2 linked regions of the Homo sapiens genome follow. The protein of the gene in region 2 interacts with the protein of the main gene of each other region in a biochemical or structural test. Each region holds a gene or a part of one and is shown on either strand. Other genes may lie near its edges.

Evidence for each region. The genes of interacting proteins can lie anywhere in the genome.
Region 1: the proteins of GLRX3 (region 2) and EED form a complex in vitro, tested with the Homo sapiens proteins (one study listed by BioGRID).

The regions. Positions count from the first base shown.
Region 1 is NC_000011.10:86,261,748-86,268,777, reverse strand, and holds part of EED (polycomb protein EED), read right to left. Parts: intron 4,607-7,030; coding exon 4,515-4,606; intron 2,696-4,514; coding exon 2,562-2,695; intron 323-2,561; coding exon 217-322; intron 1-216. UniProt on the Homo sapiens protein: Polycomb group (PcG) protein. Component of the PRC2/EED-EZH2 complex, which methylates 'Lys-9' and 'Lys-27' of histone H3, leading to transcriptional repression of the affected target gene.
Region 2 is NC_000010.11:130,131,693-130,139,396, reverse strand, and holds the start of GLRX3 (glutaredoxin-3), read right to left. Parts: upstream 3,007-7,704; 5' UTR 2,977-3,006; coding exon 2,885-2,976; intron 1-2,884. UniProt on the Homo sapiens protein: Together with BOLA2, acts as a cytosolic iron-sulfur (Fe-S) cluster assembly factor that facilitates [2Fe-2S] cluster insertion into a subset of cytosolic proteins.

The DNA of each region.
Region 1 (7,030 bases), on a different chromosome or scaffold from region 2:
AATTATAATTCAATGGCATGTTTTATTCTTAAAACAAGTTTCTAAATATATCAAAATATGAGACTTTAAAAAAGGCAACTTCCCAGCTGCCATTCAATTTAATAAACTACATAAAGTGCTCCCTGCCAAGTTCCAACATGCGCACACACATACACACACACACACACACACACACACACACACGATGGAAGTACAGCTTAACTGCAGTTACCATACCTTAGAAAGTATCAAATCGCCTAACCATCGCACACAATCAACATAATTCCTATGTATGTCTCTGGTAGAAAAATCAGGAAAATGGATTTTCTGAGAAATAAATGGCCTGAAGGAAGAATGGAAATGTAAAAAGTTAAAAGAAAAAATTATAGTAGAATCATACTCTTTTTCATTTTTGGATTTATAAAACTTGGAAAAACAAAATGTAAGACTATTAATTCCTCTGTGTTCCTACATAACCAACCACCTTATCTATTTATTGAAAGCTAAAGTCTCATTCCACTTTTGTTTATTTTTCTCCATTATTATCCAATTTTATCTTTGTCCTATGATAGATACTTTGTTTATAAACATTGTAGTTTCCTGCGTTTTACTATATATAACCCAAAATTAATCACCTCAATTCTGGGTACCCTAACCAATAATAAAGGCCTGATCAGTTTCTCACTGAAAATATACTAAGCTACCTACTCAGTCCTTAAAATTAAGCATTAATAATCTATGAAAGTCAATATATCTACACTATTTCAAAAGATAGTCATCTTTCCAGGAACAACTAAACATCATTCCAAAGTCTGCTAAAGATACATCTACAGTCCTGCCTTGAGCAATAATTTCTGAAAATGATGCCTTACAGGAATTTAAAATTTCTTAAGTGGGGGTGGGTGCGGTGGCTCCCAGCACTTTGGGAGGCCGAGGCAGGTGGATCATCTGAGGTCAGGAGTTCGAGACCACCCTAGCCAACATGGTGAAACCCCATCTCTACTAAAAATACAAAAAAAAAAAAAAAAAAAATTAGCCAGGCATGGTGGCGGCCGCCTGTAATCCAGCTACTTGGGAGGCTGAGGCAGGAGAATCGCTTGAACCTGCGAGGCAGAGGTTGCAGTGAGCCAAGATTGCACCACTGCACTCCAGCCTGGGAAACAAGAGCAAAACTCCGTCTCAAAAAAACAAATAGAACAAAATAAAATTTCCTAGGACTTTTCCAAATAATTTCTGTATTTAGGAAACTAAATGGCAACACTGTTTTCATTAGAGATATTTGTGAGAAGAAACAAAACAAGCTGCTATTAATTCTGGAGTTATTTAACAGTACACTTAACATTCCTAATATACTCAGTTTTAAATCAGAAATAGCTGTATAAGTATAATATGCCATGAATTAGTTGTCTTAGGCAATTCATATGTCCTCTCTTTACCTTTTCCCTCAGATATGTAAAAAAGCACTTTGGATTGGAGCAACTCAAAACAATCCTTCCAATTCAAATTCTGGGATATTTTGTTGAAACATTAAAATGTTATTCGTGATCTGATATAAATTCTTAACTCTGCTATAATTATATTAATTGCTTTTTAGCTAAATACATACTATAATTGTATGGCCAAACCTCTCTCAAAGAAAAAACGAGTACAACTGTTATTTTTTGAAAACTCTGAAATATAGTTTGTATTTATTCCAGATATCTAGAAAATAATCTAAAAATATAAATTTAACATTGTCCTACTAGCTCCTGGTGTTTTAAAGGAGAAAGGTAAAACTTTTAATAATTCTTAGAGGACACTTAGGTCTGATGAATGTTAGTGCATTGAAATATTTACTGATGCTTACAAATTTAATAATCTATTAACAATCTGGCTTGATAACCAGAAAATGAATTCTAGCTCTTTGCTAAAACAAAAGTGCCAACAAAGTTAACATGCAGACATACAACGTTTATAGTGAAAGTGTTAATGACAGCCTGATAAGATTCTAAAGACAGTTACTGCATTAAGAATTGAGACATTTCAAAAATATACTAAGAAAACTGCAAAATTCCCCAACCTATAGTACCATGAAGTGAGGCTCCTGCATTTGAATTCTCTCCATTTAATCAAGTGAGCATCATTTAGGGAAAAACATTATCATGAATTAGAGCTAAGAACTCCATTGTTTAAAACTGTGGTTTACCATCTTGAATTAGAATTAGCATCATTTAAAAAAAGTTAACATTATTCTAAAGTGTCCTTTACTCTCCCTAGTCCATAATAAGCTTAAGTGATTTAAAACTTTTACATTTATAACTTAAAAGGCCAAGCATATGCATACCAAAATACAAATAAGTAAAATGTGCTACTAAGTTAAGATGACAACACAATTTAAAGGGGATTTTGAAAACTAAGCCACAAACACTGCAAATAAAGGACTTCTTAAAGGGGTGAATTTTACAGTATGTAAATTGTCCCTTAAAGTTAAAAGAAGGTCTTCTAAACTCATTGTTGGGGCTTATATAGCAATTTTGGGAAAAAATAAAACTTATATTCAATAGCACAACATAGCAAATTGTTTCAAATACCACAACTGTTACCTGTTAGTTTTATTTGGATTATAATCATAAGATTCCTTAATTGCATTCATCATTCTCTTTGAATTGATCCTCCAAAGTTTAAGAGAATGATCCATACCACAGGACATTATTTTTTCACCCAAAAGATCATAATCCTGTATGCAAAACCAAAAAGTTTTATATAAATTACAGCTCCAAATTATATTTATCCAATTTTTGCCTAATGTGCAACATAGTGAAAACTGTATTTCAAATCACAATACAAACTACATTTTGGGTTTCATCTAAATAGGCCATAAATCAGAGTTTACTACTTTCAAGATTTACAGCTTTAATTAGTTTGTCAACATCGGAATATAAGAGCATTTACAATGTATAAACCAAGAAAAAATTACTTAAACTTAGTTTTATCTATTCAATTACACTAAAATATTTATTTTGCTTATTTTGAAGGTAAATTGAATACTAAGTTAAAATAATTATTCTGACACAAAGAGCTGAATAGTGATATTACTTTTCCTATCCAACCTCAACCAACCAATGAAACTGACATGTGCATGTGAAAATACATGAATCCTTAAAGAGCTGACATCTTACTTTATAATTCTAAGTCAAAATATTTTGAAGTTAGTTTTAGAGTTCACTTTTAAGTGAATTTTTAAAAGTCTAATAAAAAACAGATTTTAACTTTTTTCATTTGCTGTTTACTAATTTTTAACAGGCATGTAACAGATCATCTATTGTAACAACCTCATTTCATAGGCAGACACTAAGGCCCAGAGATGCTATTTAATTTAGCAAAAGGCACATAATGAGTAATGAAAATCTCACACACCTATCCACCTCCAGTGAACTCCTGTATTACACAGAAGAGCTACATACTGTCTCCTGCTCTCATTCTAAGAAATAACAGTAGAGAGTTCTATTGAAGGAGTATATTTTCCTTACTAACCTAGATACTATATGTTAATCCAGCCTTTGCATTAATTATGAGCACCATTTTATAAGAGCCTAAGAACTTTAGGCTTGATGTTTATTGAATTCACAGTTGTGGTACTTCTAATTACCTCACTGTCAACAGCAACAAGACATCCTTCGAGACAATACCACTAATTTGGAGTTATTAATAAAGAACAGTTCACTTGGCTTTTACACACATAAAGCCAGACGTAGAATGCTACTGCAACTTTTAGGAAATCCAAGTTGACAAGGTATTCGAAGGAAGGTATGATTCTCACAAAGGAATCCAAACTTCAACATAGGAATATTTTAGTACCTTCAACTAAAATGTTACATGCTGTAAAATATGGTGCCCCTTTACATAGTTTAATGGAAAACAACCTAAGAGATGTGAAATTACTACAGGAATCAAATGAGCTAAATATGGAACATAAGCAAAAATAATGTTAAAATCTGAAACCTAACTAAAAACACTTGTATAATGGACCAATGGATTACAATACATCAATATAAAGGTGGTATTTATCTTTAAACTGGTCTTGTATTATACCACGCCACCCAAAGAGAATGGCTAGAAATAAGTTACCTAAAACAGTGTGAGCACAATAAAACACTTCCAAATAGCAAAAAACGTTATGTTTCAACTTCAAACAAAAGATGGAAAAGCACTTTAATGGCTACATAGTTTAATTTTTTTCTTTAATAACTGCGAAATGGCAAAACAAACATTAACTTAGTGATTTTAGATTAAAAGGAAAGGAGCAAGATCATACTGCTCTCATAAGACTCCAGGGATTGGTATACAGTGCAAGTAATTTAAAAAATAAATAAATAAATATAGTCTTTACTTGTTTTATTCCTTCATCTGGAGATTAAAATCTTCTATGTCAAATGTAAGTGAATGTCTGCCTGACAGGCTACATGAAACACACTTTCTTATAAGGAAACAGTTCCATGGAGACTGTTCACAGCTATGTAAACCTGAAAGTCATTGCCCTGCAGTTTCCAACTTACAGCACTTAGAACTTCATCTCTGTGCCCTTCTACGCCTCCAAATATTGCCACCAGAGTGTCCGTCTGGATATTCCATAATCGTAAAGCATGATCTAGTATAAACATACAAAAATTAGGCGAATGTTTTTTATTTACTGTGAACTTTCAACATCTTGTGAAAGAAAAACTACTAAAGTCTAGATGTAAGTTATGCACAGTAAAGCCTAAAAATGGAATCCATATTACATAGCAACTTAAAATGTTTACATCAGATGTAGAATTAGCTAGGTAAGTGCTATAGTTTGAATAGGCCCCCCCAAAAGCATGTGCTAGAAACTCAATCCCCAATGCAATAGTGGTGTGAGCTGGGGCCTAATGGGAGGTATTTAGGTCATGGGGGCTCCATCCTCACAAATGGATTAATACTGATTATAAAAGGGCCTGAGGCTATAAATTCAATCTCTTGCTCCCTCACACCCTCTCCTGCCCTTTTGCTGAGACGATTCAGCATGAAGGCTCTCACCAGATGCCGGCACCATGTTCTTGGACTTCCCAGTCTCCAGAAACAGGAGCCAAATAAATTTTTGTTCATTATAAATCACCCAGTCAGGTACGGTGGCTCATGCTTGTAACCCCAGCACTTCAGAAGGCCAAGATGGGAGGACTGCTTAAGCCCAGGAGTTTGAGACTAGCCCTAGCAATATAGCAAGACCCTGTCTCAACAAAAAATTTAAAAATTAGTGAAGCCTGAGCAATAGAAAAGAAATTAATTAATCCATCAGTCAGTCACCTAGTCTGTGGTATTGTGTTATAGCAGCACAAAATGGACTCAGACAGAATGTTGGTACTCAGAAACGGGACTATTGCTATAAATACCTGAAAATGTGGAAATGACTTTGGAACTGGGTAACGAGGAGAGGCTGGAAGAATCTGGAGGAGCAGGCTAGAAAAAGCCTATATTGGTGTGAGTGGAGCATTGAGGGTAATTCCAGTGAGGGCTGAAAAGAAGACAAGAGCTTCAGGCAGAGCCTTTATCTTCTTAAGGATTACTTAAGTGGTTGTGATCAGAATGTTGGTAGAACAATGTTGGTCTCAGACAGAATGAGGTTGGTCTCATTCAGTGAGGTCTCAGACAGAAATGAGAAGTTATTGGAAAATGGAGTAAGAGCTATCCCTGTTGGCAGGGTGTGATGGTTCATGCCTGTAATCCCAGCACTTTGAGATTGAGGCAGGAGGATCACTTGAGGCCAGGAATTCAAGACCAGCCGGGGTAACATAGTGAGACCCAATCCCTACAGAAAATAAATTAGCCAGGTGTGGTGGCGTGTACCTGCAGTTCTAGCTACTTAGGGGACTGAGGCAAGAGGATCAATTGAGCCTAGGAGTTTTGGGCTGCAGTGAGCTATGATCATGCCACTGCACTGCCTGGGTGACAGAGACCAACCCTGTCTTTAAAAGAAAAAAAAAAAAAGCCAGGCCAGGTGTGGTAGCTCATGCCTGTAATTCCAGCAGCATGGGAGGCTGAGGTGGGTGGACACTTGAGCTCAGGAATTCGAGACTAGCCTGGGCAACATGGTGAAACTCCATCTCTACAAAAAATACAAAAACTAGCGGGGTGTGGTGGCATGTGCCTGTAGTCCCAGCTACTCGGGAGGCTGAAGTGGAAGGATCACTGGCATGGTGCCGGCATCCGGTGAGGGCCTTCATGCTGAATCGTCTCACAGCAAAAGGGAAGGAGAGGGTGTGAGGGAGCAGAGGTTGTGCCACTGCACTCCAGCCTGGGTGACAAGAATGAGACCTTGCCTCAAAAAAATAAATTAAATAAATAAATAAAAGCCATCCTTGCAATACAGTTGTGAAGAACTTAGCAGGACTGTGTCCATGCCCTAGGACTTTGTGGAAGGCAGAAGTTAAGAGCAATGAATCCAATACCTGGCAGAAGAAATATCTGAGCATCAAAGCATTCACAGTGATGCATGGCTTCTTCTGGCTGCTTATCATAAAATGAGAAATGATCTAAAGGTGAAATTTGTAATTAAAAAGGAAAGCAAAACAGAAACATTTATAAACTCTCAGCCTGGCCATGTAAAGAAAAAAAAAGCAGGCTGGGTGTGGTGGCTCACACCTGTAATCCCAACACTTTCGAAGGCTGAGGTGGAAGGATCATTTGAGCCCAGAAGTTCAAGACCAGCCTGGGCAACATAGCAAGTCCTTGTCTCTTCAAAAAATATATAAAATAAAAAAGCATGTTTGAGAGAGAATATTAAGGATGTAGCTAAGTGACTAATTGCTAAGGAGATTAATAGGGAAGAGAAGGCAGGTTCTATTCACCAAGACAATGGGATAATGACCACAAAGGCATTTCAGAGATCTTCAAGACATAGCTAAGACCTTGAGGGCAAGGTTTCCAGAGTAGCACCCATGGGACCTCTACATTCACTGTCCAGGGCCACTTCAGCACTTTGCTCCCCCTATTCCAAGGCAGTGCTCTTTGGTCACCCCATAGCTTGAAGGGGCTCAAGTATGGCTCAGGCCAT
Region 2 (7,704 bases):
AAGTGCTGGGATTACAGGCGTGAGCCACCGCGCCCGGCCTAATATTCTTAAATGTCTCCATCTTCACCAAAAAAGCTGCAGAAATGTGCTCCTTCCCCAGATGCCACACATCATTTATCACGTGTCCGTTTGAACTAGTCACTAAGGAAAGTGCACATTGTTTCCTGGGCCATTTCAAGTACAGGCCAGCGGCAAGGATACAACATCCAAATGGTACTTACATTTAAACTTTTATCCATTTTGGCCGGGCGCAGTGGCTCATGCCTGTAATCCCAGCACGCTGGGAAGCGGGCCCATCACCTAAGGTCAGGAGTTCAAGACCAGCCTGGCCAACATGGTGAAACCCATCTCTACTAAAAATGCAAAAATTAGCCAGGCGTGGTGGCGGGCACCTGTAATCCCAGCTACTCAGAAGGCTGAGGCAGGAGAATCATTTGAACCCGTGAGGCAGAGGTTGCAGTGAGCCAAGATTGTGTCACTGCACTCTACTCCAGCCTGGGCAACAGAGAGAGACTCTGTCTCCCCCCCAAAAAAAAAAAAAAAAAAAAACACTTTTATTCATTTTGATAGTTTAAGGACTTTTTAAAACATGAAGCATTTAAAACAAACATGTAAAACAGACAAAACAGCCTTTCAGGTGATGGTAAATTCAAAACGTTTACTTAGGGCAGGTCCACACAAGACCTGCTCATTTCAAGAGGCCACTTCTGGTGACTCCTGTGATTGTGCTGATCTGTACTGGATGAGTCAGAGCCCAGCTTCCATCAGTGAGTAAATGTCACATGTCCCTCCCCAACCCCTGCTTTTTTCCGTAACAATTTCCCAGGTAAACCTGAAATGCCTAAAGAGCTGTTTAAATAACACTTTAATTTCATCACCCCCATAAAGCATTTCTAACCATTAGTCAGTAACTCGCACCCCTCCCCATTTCCAAAGGCAACACCCCATCTCACCTGCACTCTCCATTGCAAAATCAGAGTACTACTTGCCTCTAATTCAAATTCAGTCGGCAAAATTTCACTCAATTTAGATCAACAGGGCAGGTCACGGGGGCTCAAGCCTGTAATCCCGATACTTTACAAGGCCGAGGCAGGCGAATCACTTGAGCTCAGGAGTTCCAGAGACCAGCCTGGGCAACATGAGGAAACCCTGCCTCTACGAAAAATACACAAATTAGCCCAGCGTGGTGGACCGCACGTGTAGTCCCAGATACTCAGGAGGCTGAGGTGGGAGGATCGCTTGAACCCAGGAGGTAGAGGCTGCAGTGAGCCGAGATCACGCCACTGCACTCAGCCTGGGCAACAGAGCAACAGCCTGTCTCGAAAACAAACAAAACAAAATTTAGATCAATAAGCATTTCTGGCCGGACGTGGTAGCTCACACCTGTAATCCCAACCCTTTGGGAGGCTGAGGAGGGCAGATCGCTCGAGTCCAGAAGGTCGAGACGAGGCTGGGCAACATGGCGAGACCTCGTCTCTATAAAAAAAAATAAAAATTAGACGGGCGTGGTGGTGAGCACCTGTGGTCCCAGCTACTCGGGAGGATGAGGTGGGTCGATCACTTGAGCCTGGGAGGCGGAGGCTGCAGGGAGCCGTGATCGCTCCACTACACTGCAGCCTGGGTGACAGAGCCAGACCCTGTCTCAAAAACAAAACAAAACAAAGCTTTTTGCCTGTGAATTCCATGAACCATTCTACTTCCTACTGAAATACTAAGTGCCAACATCTACTGAGTGCTTCCTGCATACTAGGCATTGTATTATTTGTATTTTACATACGTCATCTCATTTAACCCTCACAACAACCCTGAGGTACTAACAGGTGCTAATCTATGTCACCGTCGGGAAACTGAGGCTTGGGCATGAAACGTGCCCAGGGGTTACATGGCTACTGAGTGGCTGCGGTGGGACTGGATCCCAGGCAATCCGACATAAGAGTTCCCATAACAACCGCTAATAATACAACTAAGAGAACAACTCAGTCCTTGGAGTAGTCTACAATGTGAGGTGGTATTATCACGGAGAGTCCACGTGCAGACCTTTCCCTGCAGGCACGCACGCTAGTAAGCATTTACTCGTAAGCATGCTTGCAGTTCAGAGCTTCTAGTCCACCCAGAAAACGCTTTCTATGCATTCCTCTGGATCTCCTTTTGTAGTCTTCCCAGGGATTGAAGACCTGGACACCGGCGCCAAATCTGAACAGACTCTCACTACACCAGTTCATGGAACAGGAAATCTCTGTCTCCGGCAACAGGTTAAGTCTGAAGACTGAGGCTACCTGCTGTCCAACAAACTTTAAAGGCTGACTTCAAAAGGCAGCCAGGCCTAGCTAATGCAACGGGGCCTTCCCTCGCCGCTCTTCCTGCGACAGGGGCGTTCCTGAAGGGAGGCTGAAGAGCAATGGGCCGACGCCGAGCCTGCCGCTCCCTCCCGGCGGGCACAGGAAAGGTGGAGCCCGCAGCCGTGGGTCCCGCTCCGTGGCGCGGAGGGCCGGGGTCTCGGCGCCGCCCCGTCCCCCGCCCCGCCACTGCGGCACGGCTGAGTCACCACCGCCTCCGTCCCGCGGCGGGGCCGCCCAGGCCAGAGGCCGGGAAGGTCGCGTCCCCCGGGCTTGGACAGCCGTCGGGGTCGGAGCCAGGGCTGGGGCCGGGGCTTCCAGGCGAGCCTCGCGCCCTGCTCGCTGTTCCGGGGCGGGGAACCTGCGGCTCGGGCCACTCACGCGGAGGCTCGGGGGAGTCTACGGGTGGCGCCGGGCCCGGTCCCCCGAGGCCGAAGGGAGCCGGGCACCAAGAAGCCAGGCTGGGCCACCCGCCGCCCCACACCGGCCCGGTCTCGCGGCCGCTCCCGCTCCGGCTCCTCACTCCTACCGCTCGCCGCCCCGCTTACTTGGCTTTGAGGCGCAGCAGCTCCTCAAACTGCCCGGCTGAGCCGACCTCCTCCACGGCCGCTACAGCTGCCTCAGCCGCCCCCGCCGCCATGCTGCCGCCGCCAGACAGAAGCAATCCAGTGCCGGCGGCCGGATGTGGGCGGGGCCACGGGGAGCTGAGCGGCTGCGCGAGGGAAAGCCCCGCCCCTGCCTGCGCTGAGGCTGCCGAGCCTGAGAAATCCCAAAAGGGGCCTCGGCGGCGGGCTCTGGATCCCGCTGGGGGGCTCTGACCCTGCCAAGTCTGGGCACTCCGCTGCGGGCCTCCTGGCTCCCGGGGTTCATGGCTGTTATGGTTCCTGGCTGTCGGGGCTCCTGGCTTTCGGGGCTCCCTGGCTGAAGGGGCTCCTGGCTGTAGGGGCTCCTGGCTATGGAGGTTCCCGGTTATAAGGGCTTCTGGATGTAGTGGATTCTGGCCGTCGAGGTCCCTGGCTGTCGGGGCTCCTGGCCGTAATGGCCCCTGGCTGTCGGGACCCCTGGGTGTCGGGGTTCCTGGCTGTCGGGACCCCTGGGTGTCGGGGTTCCTGACTGTAGGGGCTCCTGGGTGTTAGGGTTCCTGGCTATAGCAGGGGCTCCTGGGTGTCGGGGTTCCTTGCTGTCAGGGCTCCTGGTGGTAGAGGCTTCTTGCTGTTGGCTTCCTGGCTGTCGGGGTGACTGGGTGTCAGGGCTCCTGGTGTTAGGGTTCCTGGCTTCCTGGCTGTAGTAGGGGCTCCTGGGTGTCGGGGTTCCTTGCTGTCAGGGCTCCTGGTGGTAGAGGCTTCTGGCTGTTGGGGTTCCTGGGTGCCAGGGCTCCTGGGTGTCAGGGTTCCTGGCTGTCAGGACACCTGACTCCTGAGGCTCCTGGCTTTTGGGGCTCCAGACCTTCCTTGCACTTCCTGTGTCTCCTGGGTCTGTAATAGAAGGGGCCGGTGGAGGGGTGGGGGTGAGACATGTGAGTGAAAGTGAAGTCAGATGTGTACATTTAGGAAGCTGAAATTATCAAAAATGAAATTGCATAAAGGTGAGGAAGAACTGGGAGGTCTGGGAACAGAAGTGGTAGATCTTGAACTTCAACACAGACAGGGTGCTTCCAATTCAGTCCTGGGACCTGAACCCGGAGCCCACAGCATGTCCCTCCTCCCCTGGCCCTCCGCGCGTGCCGCCACTCATTGCAGCCCCACAGAGCCATCACCCATTGTAACCTCAGAACAGAAGGGGCTGGGTGGGTCCACAGATCCCTGCACTCCTCCCGTCTTGCCTCCTTGGATGATCCCTGGCTTGTCTTTCTCCCTTGGGAATCCCCCTGATGTTGGCTCTCCATGTGGTGTACTCTGTACCCCACACCCCATGCTTCCCACACACCTTCTGGCCTGAGTAATCTCCATGCCCCCAGTGACATCAACCTCCAGGGAAACCTCAATAGCAAGCCCAGAACCCTCCCCTGCATCCCAGAGCCTAGCATCCACTAACTTTGAGGAGGGGCCATCTTTTATTGGATATCCCCAAACCACACTGGGCCTTCCCTCCAAAGTGCCTCTCCTCTTGGTTCCCATCTCAGGGAACACCATCGCTCCCACCCAGACACTTGGGGCTCCTTCTGACTGGTCCCCCTGCTGTCCCTGGGCTTTGAGGCCAAGCCCCCACAGAGCCTTCCCTACTAGCCAGGTGTTCCCAGGCCTCCTTTGCTTGCTTCTACCGTGGCCTGTCTCATGTTGTAGAACTGTGCTTGTCCTCCATTGGCCTGTGTTCTTAAAGGGCAGGAGCTGATCTGTGTCTCAGTGCCTGGATCAGAGTCAGACACATAGGAGGTACTCAGTCCATGCTAACAGCTGCCAGAGGACTGGGCTCACTGGATTGCAAAGACTTCGTACGAGAAAAGTAGCATATCATTCATACTTTTTATATTGATTACATGTTGAAATGAGGATATTTGGATATATTCGGTTTTCTGAAATATATTATTTAAATTGGTCTCTTTTACCTTTGGCTCCTGAGAAATGTCTAATTTCATAGGCAACTTTCATTCGTGGCCCTTGAATTTTCTTGGGCAGCACTACTGTGGTGTTTAAAAGCCTTTTGGAGCCTGTCACATGTATACCTCACCTGGAGAAATACATGGTATTGAACACGGTAAATTGTGTTATTTAAAATGCAACAGGAGAGTGATGAGGAACCATTTTGTATCTTGCCTGTGGTGGTGAGAACACAAACTAAACATGATAAAATTGTATAGAACTTGGCTGGGTGCTCTGACTCACACCTGTAATCCCAACAATTTGGAAACCCCAGACAGGAGGATCACTTGAGCCGAGGAGTTGGAGACCAGCCGGGCAACATAGGAAGACCCGGTCTCTACAAAAATATATATATATATATGAGTCAGGCATGGTGGCTCACACTTGTGGGCCCAGGTAGGTGAGAGGCTGAGGTGAGAAGATCACTTGAGCCTGGGAGTTGGAGGCTGCAGTGAGCCATGATCCTGCCACTGCTACTGCCCACTAACCTGGGCGACAGAGCAAGACCCTGTCTCAAAAACAAAAACAACGCACACACACACACACACGCATGCACGCGCGCACGAGTACAAGTAAAACTGGGAAAATCTGAAAAAGATCAGTCGATTGTTTATAAATATCAACATCCTGGTTGCAGTATTACAGTTTTGCAAGGTGTTGTCATCGGAAGAAAGTGTACACAGGATCTGTATTATTTCTCACAACTGCATGTGAATCTACAGTTGTTTTAAACTAAAAAGTTTAGTTAAAAACCATGTAAATAAGACTTTAAAGTTTACTATGAAAAGAATGCAATAGGAGGGAAAAAAGACACCATGTCAAAAAAAAAGAAAAAGATACCATGTCATAAAACAAGATACACATTCTGGTTATCACTTTTTTTCTTTTCTTTTCTTTGAGATGGAGTTTTGCTCCTGTTGGCCAGGCTGGAGTGCAATGGCGTGATGTCGGCTCACCGCAACCTCCACCTCCCGGGTTCAAGCGATTCTCCTGCCTCAGCCTCCCAAGTAGCTGGGATTACAGGTGTGTGCCACCACGCCCGCCTAATTTTGTATTTTTAGTAGAGACGGAGTTTCTCCATGTTGGTCAGGCTGGTCTCGAACTCCTGACCTCAGGTGATCCGCCCGCCTCGGCTTCCCAAAGTGCTGGGATTGCAGGTGTGAGCCACTGTGCCCGGCCTGTGATTATCATTTTTAAGTAGAATTGAATGTAAATAAAACATATAACTATATCAGTGAATGGCTCATAGAAAAGGGTCTCCAGAAGGATGCTCCCCAAATTATTATCAGAGCTTGCCTCCAGAGGGCAGAAACAGAGGAGAGCTAAAGGGAGGCCCTTCACTTTGACTTACACACTTCTTTGTGTCATTTGCTTGTTTTCTAATAGCATAGACTGCTTTTGACATTTAAAAAATAATGAAATTGTATTGCACAGGGGAAATGTGCTATAGTGAATCCTTTTCAAAAAAAAAAGCAGTAATCACCCCTCAAATGTGGCTGTTTTATAAATGCTGATTTTTCTTTTATTTTTTATTTTTTGAGACGGAGTCTTGCCCTGTCACCCAGACTGGAGTGCAGTAGCGCGATCTGAGCTCACTGCAAGCTCCGCCTCCCGGGTTCATGCCATTCTCCTACCTCAGCCTCCCGAGTAGCTAGGAATAGAGGCGCCTGCCACCACGCCCGGCTAATTTTTTGTATTTTTAGTAGAGATGGGGTTTCACCGTGTTAGCCAGGATGGTCTCGATCTCCCGACCTCGTGATCCGCCCACCTCGGCCTCCCAAAGTGCTGGGATTACAGGCGTGAGCCACCGCCCCCGGCCCGCTGATTTTTCTTTTAAATGGAATTTGCTGAAAGTGGCACAAACCAGTTGCAGAGCAGACTCTAAAAAAAATGCTATGAAAACTCCTGGATAACACTTCCATTTCTGCCCTTTTTGTAGTTTATTATTGTAGGGGCCACAGGAAAGCTTCTCCTTAGCCCTCTGATGGTTTGCTGAAAATCACTGACAAAAGGCAGATTAATAGGAGAAAAGATAAACAAATTTATTTGATCACAGTTTCACGTGACACGTGAAGACTCAAAGATACAGGGAAAACTGTCCATTTGTATGCTTAGGTTCAACGAAGTATGGACAGTTATGTAGAAATACGATTGGACAAAATGGGTATGCTCTTATGCTAGCAGAACTCACTGGGGGCTTTGCAGATGCTGACGCCCCCCAGAACCCCCTGCTACCAGCCATGGTCAATCCCACCATGTTCTTCAACATGGCCGTCAATGGCAAGCCCTGGGGCCATCAAACAGCCCTTCGAGCTGTTTGCAGACAAGATTCCAAAGACAGCAGAACACTTGCATGCTCTGAGCACTGGAGGGAAAGGATTTTGTCATGAGGGTTCCTGCTTTCACAGAATTATTCCAGGGCTTATGTGTTAGGGTGGTGGCTTCACACGCCGTAATGGCGCTGGTGGCAAGTCCATCTACAGGGAGAAATTTGATGATGAAAACTGTAGCCTGAAGCATACAGGTCCCGGCATGTTGTCCAAGGCAAATGCTGGACCAACACGTACGGTTCCCAGTTTGGCATCTGCACTGCCAAGACTCAGTGGTTGCATGGCGAGCATGTGGTCTTTGGCAAGATGAAAGAAGGCATGAGGGTCCAGAAATGGCAAGACCAGCAAGAAGGTCACCATTGCTGACTGTGGACAACTCTAATAAATGTGACTTTGTGTTTTGTCTTTGAAAAGAACTGACTGGGAGAACCCAGCAAGGCTGGTCTGGTGTTCAGATTC